Homo sapiens: one gene and its partner. The protein of the gene in region 2 interacts with the protein of the main gene of each other region in a pairwise test. Each region holds a gene or a part of one and is shown on either strand. Other genes may lie near its edges.

The links.
Region 1: the proteins of ZNF227 (region 2) and RPS6KA6 interact in a two-hybrid assay, tested with the Homo sapiens proteins (one large-scale study listed by BioGRID and IntAct).

The regions. Positions count from the first base shown.
Region 1 is NC_000023.11:84,180,870-84,186,101, forward strand, and holds part of RPS6KA6 (ribosomal protein S6 kinase alpha-6), read right to left. Parts: coding exon of another isoform or gene 5,192-5,232; intron 1-5,191. UniProt on the Homo sapiens protein: Constitutively active serine/threonine-protein kinase that exhibits growth-factor-independent kinase activity and that may participate in p53/TP53-dependent cell growth arrest signaling and play an inhibitory role during embryogenesis.
Region 2 is NC_000019.10:44,218,335-44,223,566, forward strand, and holds part of ZNF227 (zinc finger protein 227), read left to right. Parts: intron 1-5,232. UniProt on the Homo sapiens protein: May be involved in transcriptional regulation.

The DNA.
Region 1 (5,232 bases), on a different chromosome or scaffold from region 2:
GGTTCAAATTCCAGACGTATTTCCTACTAACTTGCATGTATCTTTCTATTCTGTTAAAAAGACATAACTGTCTTACCAAGATGTTTTGAAGAATGAATAAAACTGAGATAATCTATGATGCATCTAGTACTAGCTGGTACATAGTTCATGCTCAATAAACGCTATTATCTCTTTCTCCCTTAAGATTCGATACCTTTAAATGGAATGGATTCCAACGTTTTTTCAGGTTAAAAAATTTGTATTGGGTGTTTAAATTGCTATATTTCCTCTTAAAGTTTGTCTTCAATCACTTTACAGGAGAGGCAGAGGGATTTCTTAGTAATAATTACCCATGGGTTTTGAAATTTTTTGTTAGAGATGTAATGGGATATTTGTCATTCAAAACAGAGTCACTATCTCCTTACTCAGCTAGTAAAATGGGTGAACAAGTTATTTAACCTCTTAGTTATATGGCTGAACTATATCAAAACTAGCTACGGTACTAAATTTTGTTTTTAATGCTACTGGAAAAGCAAATTCCTCAAAACTAAAGAGCAAGAACATACAGGGCAGTTCAAACAACCCAATTTGGCTCCAGTCATATCTTAAAACAACAACAAAATAAAACACACAGAAAAATATCACAATTCACAGATAATTTACTGCAGAGCTAATTGCTAGCTTACAAATTAATATTCTTTTTTTCCTATTGAATAATGACAACTACGTGACTATTTCTTTTTTTACTTTGGCCTAGAGCTGTGGTTTTTAACCCTGGCTGTGCATCATAAGCATCTGGGGAATAGATGCCCAGGCCCCCTCTAGATTAGTTAAATGTGAATCTCTGAGTGGAACACTGGCATGGATAATTTTTTTACACTCCCAGGTAAATATAACACACAGCCAGAGTTGAGAAAAACCAGCTAAGAAAACTCAAGGCCAAATTTATAATTCAACTATATTTTAAACATGTCATAGACCCTTACAGCCTGCTTATTTGTGCTCTATTTTACCCTTCATCCCCTACCCTCCACCCTTTTCATATATCTCCTACTTTGTTTTCCCTTATCCTCAATATCAAAATAGTTATCAGATTATATTTCCCATATACCATCTCAAATGCTTGGTAAAATGAAGCAAATCACAAGTAACACACATGCACTCTACTCCACCTTCCCTCTTTCTCTGTCTCTCTCTCTCTCTCTCTCTCTCTCTCACACACACACACACACACACACACACACGTGCACACAAAACTACAGCAGGACCTGTTTCTAATGTAGAGATACAGATTAAAATCTAGCAGTGAAATCAGTTACAGAATGTCTCCAGGGCAATTTAGAAAACGTCTCTTATCTGCAAAAGCCAGATTTAGCTCAGCTCTCTAAATCTCTCTCCCATCTAACTCCTTTCCTACCTAAAAACAAACAAAAATAAAGAAAATACACAACAAAAAAAAATATTGGCAGCAACAGTAAATAATCCTTGGAAATAACATAAATGAATAAACATTACATAGCAAATTCTGACAAAGTACTGAAAGGCTTATACCTCAAGATTCCAAGTGCTTATCAAATCTTAAGAACCGCTGCTACATACAATGATAGCACCAAGAAAGAAATTACAGGAAGGGAAAAAAATCTTGCATTTCCTCATCAAAATTCTAGATGAGAGAGACTATGAGAGGGTAGGTACTAAAACAATATGGCCCAGAAAAGCAACTACACTATCAGTAGGCCTTATCATGGAACACAGAGGTAATGATTAGCTCTCTTGATGAACTAATCAAGGTAGGGAAATATAGAGGACCTGCCCTGAAGGAACTGACCTGAATATTTCCAGATCAGACTGGCTTAAAGAAAGATTGACTTGGAGGAACTGAGAAGGCACCTGTGGCAGGGAGGGGCCACTGCCCTCTGACTCCTCCCCGCTTGTCTATTCCAAATAAACCTGGTGAAAGCATAGAAAAAATACAGATGTCCCTGCTCTCCTTCCACATTCCAGAAATAAGTACTGGTCATTATTTTCAGAATAGGACTCTGTACTCACGGCTGCTGACTACTGAAGATGAACATTGGTGAAACAAGAATTACAGGCCTAAGGCCCATTTAAAAAGAATTAAAAATGTTTTAGCTAGTAATAAGTGTATTCACCTTTGGTAGTAAAGAATTTAAGCATTCTAAGCACGATCAGAAACCTTCAGAGTGGAATGCTATTATTCAATACAATATTAGAAAGGGGAGATTTCATTTTAGCTTTCTATCTCCCTATACTGCAAAGATCTATTTATTTTTATATTAGTCTGGTGGCTAATACAGAGACTTATATTGGCAGGTATGCATTAAATACCTGTTACATTGAATTAATTCCTACCAGGACGCTTCTAATCTCAATTGTTTGTTATTTCTTTTTACTCTCCAACATCTAATCAGTTACCAAATTGTAACTATTCTACCTCTGCCAGGTCTCTCCCATCAGTCATCTCTTTTCTACCCCTTCTGTACTAGTTCAAAAATCTCACTACTACTTCCACTAACACAATAGCCTCCTAGCTGGAATTCCCCACCTTCCATATCTCCCCCATTCCTCACTACCGTCAATTATTTTTCAAAGCACAAATCTAATAATGTCACTCATGTCCTCAAAAACCTTCAGTGGCTCCTATTTATGAGATAAAATTGAACCCTTAAACTGGCTTAAAAAGTCCCATTCAACCTGGGCCTAGCTTACCTTTAATACATTCCTTATCTCTCACTATATCCCCTCTCCCACATCACAGACTTACAACAGTATCAGATTCTTCCTTCTTTCAGAACATTTCCATGCCTTTTCTTATATTGTGCCCATCCACGTGAAATATGCTCCTTTCATCTGTCTGTGAAAATATTATCACTTTCTAATGCCCTGCTCAAATTCCACCTCCTTCACAAAGCCTTACCAGATCCATTCCTAAACCACCACCACCCCCACCACCACCACCACCACCCCATTGTTGATAATCTTGTGCCTTTTACAATAACAATTTCCATACATGCCTGTCTTACTACCTGAATGTAAACCTGTGGGGGTAGGGTGGGACTCTGTGGTATATTTTTAGGCATTTCACATTACAGCACTATGTACAGCACTGCCTTGTACTCAATAAATGCTTCATGAATTGAACCAATTCCTACCATGACAAGAGTTCAGAATTTTTTTAAAAAATTAAAAATTTCAATGAAACACCTCATCAGCCAGATATAATAAATGAAATTATCTGTCTCTTCTTATCCTTCCACTGTTTCTAAATATAACTTTGTATTTTATCTCTGGATCACCCTATCTGTGATTACAAACATTCACAGTGAGAGCACCACTATACTTAGATGAAATGATCAAATTTAGGAAGGGGTCTTAAGAAAAACTGCTTACGAAATGGAAGGCTGCGGCTAAGGCCATGGTTATCTGAATCCCAGGATTTTAACATAGATGACAATAGTTCAGACTTTAGGGGCATGGGAAGAGGCATGATGACTGTGGGAAAAGAGAAGGAACTATTGTGTACTAGAGACTAAGTGCAAAACATCTTGCTAAGTTTATTAAACCCAGCACTGAATTTTCTTTACATAACAACTCTTGAAGATGTTTTTTCTCCAACTTATAGACAAAGAAAGTGAGGTTCAGAGAGGTTAGGTAACGTGGATTGTGTCACATCATGAGTATGGCATGGAGCTCGGACAAGAACCCAGATTTACCTGCCTTCAAAGCTGTTCTTTCCTCTATTACTATAGGGTCTCATGAAAATTAATTAAAACTAGAAGTTTTTCCCAAATTGGTTTTATCAGTAAACTACATACTCTCAAAACTAATTTGTTTAGACAGGCATGGTTGTGAGCACCTGTAGTCCCAGCTACTCGGGAACCTGAGGCATGAGGATTGTTTGAGTCCAGGAGTTCGAGGCCAGCCTGGACAATGTACAATGACATAGAAAGACCCTGACTCAAAAAAAAAAAAAAAAAAAAAAAACTAACTTGCTTAAATAAAAACAGCATTGCTAAAGAAATAATATAAAAGTACTACACGTTTACTATGATATGAAATGTGAAAATTACATCATCAACTTGATAAAGAAGCACTTGGTTCCTCACCAAAAAACAAACAACTAAGCGAACAAACTGTAACATGCATGGCATTAAATCATGAAAAGTTCACATTAGTCAAACAGGTTGTTCTTTATGATCCTTGCCCAGGAATGACCAATACCCATCCCATCTCAAGTAAAACCTCTTTCTTGATCCTGACAGAATCCAGTCAAAAGCTTAAATTGTGACTGCGTGAGGGGTGATGCCCTTTGAAGTTCCTATTCCCAGTAGACCTCATTGAGACAGTCCCTGCAAGAGCTCTCACAATCAGTTTCTTGCTTACCCTATTTCCCCTCTTCTAAGAACTCTCTTCCCAGAAACCAAAAGATTCCAGGTTTCCCCTTTTCAGGCCCATTCTCTACCTCTCACTGGAACCAAGCTAGTTATTGGTTGAAACCTGACACATTTCACCACAGAACAATTTTACAAACAGTGGTTAGGCTCGGCATCATTATACCTCGCTATTATGTACTGATCTAAAAATATAAGTACCCTTAATAAGTTTTTCCTGTGGGAAAACATGTTAAGAGTCTCAAACAACCAATTTACACACTTCTGAATGATAATTCAAAGGTTAACAACTGTCCATGCAAGCAAGACAGGTAAAAGATACAAAAAGACTCCAAAATATATGGTAGTGTCTATAATCTTTAATCTTACCAGATTCAACACACACAGAAATGGACGGAAATTATTTCTTTTGACATTAAAGTTAACAGATTCTTACCTACATTTTCTTTAAGGATTCTAGCACATTTTAAAAATATATATTCTACAACAAAAACACTCTTAGTCCTAAAATTATCACAATTGAGGGTTGTAGAGCTTGTACTCAAAATTAGCATTTTTAAAGCCAACATCAACAAATTTGTAATTAAAATATAAATTATCAAAAGTAAACTTGTTTACTTCTTATCAAAAGAATATAATTAAAAACAAACAAACTCTTCTAAGTACTAAGTGGGTCTGTTCAAATGTAGCATTTAGTTTTCACCTATAATATTTTTTATTAAGTAACTTGCAGGGTTAAATCTAACCAATCATAACTGTTTTAGAGAAAGAAGGCAGAAATACTATCTTCACCACATTACCTTCACCTTTCGTTTTACTTCATAGGGATTAACAATTTCCA
Region 2 (5,232 bases):
CTACATATAAAAACAATTCCTTCAAAAGAAATTCTGGTGGAATTCAATATTATTTGTCCTTAAAGTTTTAGGAACTCTGCATTGAAGAGGTTTATGTCTCAGTTTCATGTCAGTTCCCTCAGGTGTTTTGTAAACAGAACATCTAAAGAATGACATGGTGTAATTTTATTAGATGCTTTCAGAGAAGAAGAGCTATATATTTTTCCCGTTTATGTTTTTATCACTCATTTATTTCTTGTATGAATTTATTTCATCAAAGTAACTACATGTACGTAAGGTCTAGTAGTACTTAGATGTCTTGCTAGCCCTTTCCATCTGTCATTGCATTTTTCAGATGTGAGGATGGAGATGATTTATTTGCATTTTAAATATGAAGAAACAGGTTATGGGAACATTTTATAACTGCCCCAAATTTCCCAGGTAGCTGACTCATTGGACACTGAAGCTTCCAACTATTAGGAATATCTGGCATTCTATTTTCATGTAAAGGCAGACAGAACAAAAGAGTTTTCCATTCACAGAGATGAGCACATATGATAGAAGTACCTGATGTTACCTTTTTATTCTTTTGAGACAGAGTTTAATTCTTGTCACCCAGGCCGGAGTGCAATGGCATGTTCTTAGCTCACTGCAACCTCTGCCTCCCAGGTTCAAGCGATTCTCCTGCCTCAGCCTCCCAAGTAGCTGGGATTACAGGCATGTACCAGCACGCCTGGCTAATTTTGTATTTTTATTAGAGACGGGGTTTCACCACGTTGGCCAGGCTGGTCTTCAACTCCTGACCTCAGATGATCCACCCACTTCGGCCTCCCAAAGTGCTGGGATTATAGGCGTGAACCAGTGCACCTGGCCCTGATATTACCTTTTGGAGGATAGACCCCAACAATGCCCCTCATCCAGTTTCCATCTCAATTACTGTCTCTTCTCTAGTTTTGTCTCTTAGTCATTCCATGAACGTAGATGCTCAAGCACAGTTTTTATGTAAGTGTTTTAAATTTCCCTACAGCAAAAGCTATCAGGTATGATGGTAAGAGACAGCAGCAAACCGGTGGCATATACTTAAACATTAGGTAAAGGTCTAATAGCTTAAATTCCTGTTAAGATTAGTAATATAGAGAAAATTCCAACTGGAATATGAGCAAAAGAAATGAATAGGAGTGTCATAAAGAAAAGAAATTTATGAAAAAAACTTCACTAATAATTTAAATGTGTGAAAATGTTAATAAAATAGCTTTCTATTTATATATTGGTTTTACTTATATTGTCAATGACTTTTTTAGAAAAAGGAACTGAGTCCTATTTAGCCGGGGTCTAGAGATTCAGGAATGCTTGTACTGTTGCATGAAGAGTGAACTGGGAAAATCTTTGGAGAGGAAAATCTGCCATTACGCTTTCAAAACTTTTTTTTTTGGATGTTGATTTTCTTTTATTTATTTATTTATTTATTTATTTATTATTATTATACTTTAAGTTTTAGGGTACATGTGCACAATGTGCAGGTTTGTTACATATGTATACATGTGCCATGTTGGTGTGCTGCACCCATTAACTCGTCATTTAGCATTAGGTATATCTCCTAATGCTATCCCTCCCCACTCCCCCCACCCCACAACAGTCCCTGGAGTGTGATGTTCCCCTTCCTGTGTCCATGTGTTCTCATTGTTCAATTCCCACCTATGAGTGAGAACATGCAGCGTTTGGTTTTTTGTCCTTGCGATAGTTTGCTGAGAATGATGGTTTCCAGTTTCATCCATGTCCCTACAAAGGACATGAACTCATCCTTTTTTATGGCTGCATAGTATTCCATGGTGTATATGTGCCACATTTTCTTAATCCATCTATCGTTGTTGGACATTTGGGTTGGTTCCAAGTCTTTGCTATTGTGAATAGTGCCAGAATTAACATATGTGTGCATGTGTCTTTATAGCAGCATGATTTATAATCCTTTGGGTATATACCCAGTAATGGGATGGCTGGGTCAAATGGTATTTCTAGTTCTAGATCCCTGAGGAATTGCCACACTGACTTCCACAATGGTTGAACTAGTTTACAGTCCCACCAACAGTGTAAAAGTGTTGCTATTTCTCCACATCCTCTCCAGCACCTGTTGTTTCCTTTTTTTTTTTAACTTTAAAAAAATGTTAATAGAAAAAAAATGCCCAGATAAAGATACCGATCACAGTATCCACATCTATACAATGATTGATCCAGCTGTGGCCCTCCCCTCTCACCCAGCCCCATGTGGCTTCCTTTGAAACTGCAGACTGGAGATGACAGTGGTGAATTCTAGTCCTACTCACTGGATATCAGCATTTCTTTTTTTTAAAATTTTATTATTATTAAACTAAGTTTTAGGGTACATGTGCACAATGTGCAGGTTAGTTACATATGTATACATGTGCCATGCTGGTGTGCTGCACCCATTAACTCGTCATTTAGCATTAGGTATATCTGCTAATGCTATCCCTCCCGCCTCCCCCAACCCCACAACAGTCCCCAGAGTGTGATGTTCCCCTTCCTGTGTCCATGTGTTCTCATTGTTCAGTTCCCACCTATGAGTGAGAACATGTGGTGTTTGGTTTTTCGTCCTTGCGATAGTACTGAGAATGATGATTTCCAATTTCATCCATGTCCCTACAAAGGACATGAACTCATCCTTTTTTATGGCTGCATAGTATTCCATGGTGTATATGTGCCACATTTTCTTAATCCAGTCTATCATTGTTGGACATTTGGGTTGGTTCCAAGTCTTTGCTATTGTGAATAGTGCTGCAATAAACATACGTGTGCATGTGTCTTTATAGCAGCATGATTTATAATCCGTTGGGTATACACCCAGTAGCCATAAAAAATGATGAGTTCATGTCCTTTGTAGGGACATGAACATACATGTGCATGTGTCTTCATAGCAGCATGATTTATAGTCCTTTGGGTATATACCCAGTAATGGGATGGCTGGGTCAAATGGTATTTCTAGTTCTAGATCCCTGAGGAATCGCCACACTGACTTCCACAATGGTTGAACTAGTTTACAGTCGCACCAGCAGTGTAAAAGTGTTCCTGTTTCTCCACATCCTCTCCAGCACCTGTTGTTTCCTGACTTTTTAATGGTTGCCATTCTAACTGGTGTGAGATGGTATCTCATTGTGGTTTTGATTTGCATTTCCCTGATGGCCAGTGATGGTGAGCATTTTTTCATGTGGTTTTTGGCTGCATAAATGTTTTCTTTTGAGAAGTGTCTGTTCATGTCCTTCGCCCACTTTTTGATGGGGTTGTTTGCTTTTTTCTTGTAAATTTGTTTGAGTTCATTGTAGATTCTGGATATTAGCCCTTTGTCAGATGAGTAGGTTGCAAAAATTTTCTCCCATTTTGTAGGTTGCCTGTCCACTCTGATGGTAGTTTCTTTTGCTGTGCAGAAGCTCTTTAGTTTAATTAGATCCCATTTGTCAATTTTGGCTTTTGTTGCCATTGCTTTTAGTGTTTTAGACATGAAGTCCTTGCCCATGCCTATGTCCTGAATGGTAATGCCTAGGTTTTCTTCTAGGGTTTTTATGGTTTTAGGTCTAATGTTTAAGTCTTTAATCCATCTTGAATTAATTTTTGTATAAAGTGTAAGGAAGGGATCCAGTTTCAGCTTTCTACATATGGCTAACCAGTTTTCCCAGCATCATTTATTAAATAGGGAATCCTTTCCCCATTGCTTGTTTTTCTCAGGTTTGTCAAAGATCAGATAGTTGTAGATCTGTGGCGTTATTTCTGAGGGCTCTGTTCTGTTCCATTGATCTATATCTCTGTTTTGGTACCAGTACCATGCTGTTTTGGTTACTGTAGCCTTGTAGTATAGTTTGAAGTCAGGTAGCATGATGCCTCCAGCTTTGTTCTTTTGGCCTAGGATTGACTTGGCGATGTGGGCTCTTTTTTGGTTCCATATGAACTTTACAGTAGTTTTTTCCTATTCTGTGAAGAAAGTCATTGGTAGCTTGATGGGGATGGCATTGAATCTATAAATTACCTTGGGCAGTATGGACATTTTCACGATATTGATTCTTCCTACCCATGAGCATGGAATGTTCTTCCATTTGTTTGTATCCTCTTTTATTTCATCGAGCAGTGGTTTGTAGTTCTCCTTGAAGAGGTCCTTCACATCCCTTGTAAGTTGGATTCCTAGGTATTTTATTCTCTTTGAAGCAATTGTGAATGGGAGTTCACTCATGATTTGGCTCTCTGTTTGTCTGTTATTGGTGTATAAGAATGCTTGTGATTTTTGTACATTGACTTTGTATCCTGAGACTTTGCTGAAGTTGCTTATCAGCTTAAGGAGATTTTGGGCTGAGACAATGGGGTTTTCTAGATATACAATCATGTCATCTGCAAACAGGGACAATTTGACTTCCTCTTTTCCTAATTGAATACCCTTTATTTCCTTCTCCTGCCTGATTGCCCTGGCCAGAACTTCCAACACTATGTTGAATAGGAGTGGTGAGAGAGGGCACCCCTGTCTTGTGCCAGTTTTCAAAGGGAATGCTTCCAGTTTTTGCCCATTCAGTATGATATTGGCTGTGGGTTTGTCATAGATAGCTCTTATTATTTTGAGATATGTCCCATCAATACCTAATTTATTGAGAGTTTTTAGCATGAAGGGTTGTTGAATTTTGTCAAAGGCCTTTTCTGCATCTATTGAGATAATCATGTGGTTTTTGTCTTTGGGTTTCTTTATATGCTGTATTACATTTATTGATTTGCGTATGTTGAACCAGCCTTGCATCCCAGGGATGAAGCCCACTTGATCATGGTGGATAAGCTTTTTGATGTGCTGCTGGATTTGGTTTGCCAGTATTTTATTGAGGATTTTTACATCAATGTTCATCAAGGATATTGGTCTAAAATTCTCTTTTTTGGTTGTGTCTCTGCCTGGCTTTGGTATCAGGATGATGCTAGCCTCATAAAATGAGTTAGGGAGGATTCCCTCTTTTTCTATTGATTGGAATAGTTTCAGAAGGAATGGTACCAGCTCCTCCTTGTACCTCTGGTAGAATTCTGCTGTGAATCCATCTGGTCCTGGACTCTTTTTGGTTGGTAAGCTATTGATTATTGCCACAATTTCAGAGCCTGTTATTGGTCTATTCAGAGATTCAACTTCTTCCTGGTTTAGTCTTGGGAGGGTGTATGTGTTGAGGAATTTATCCATTTCTTCTAGATTTTCTAATTTATTTGCGTAGAGGTGTTTGTAGT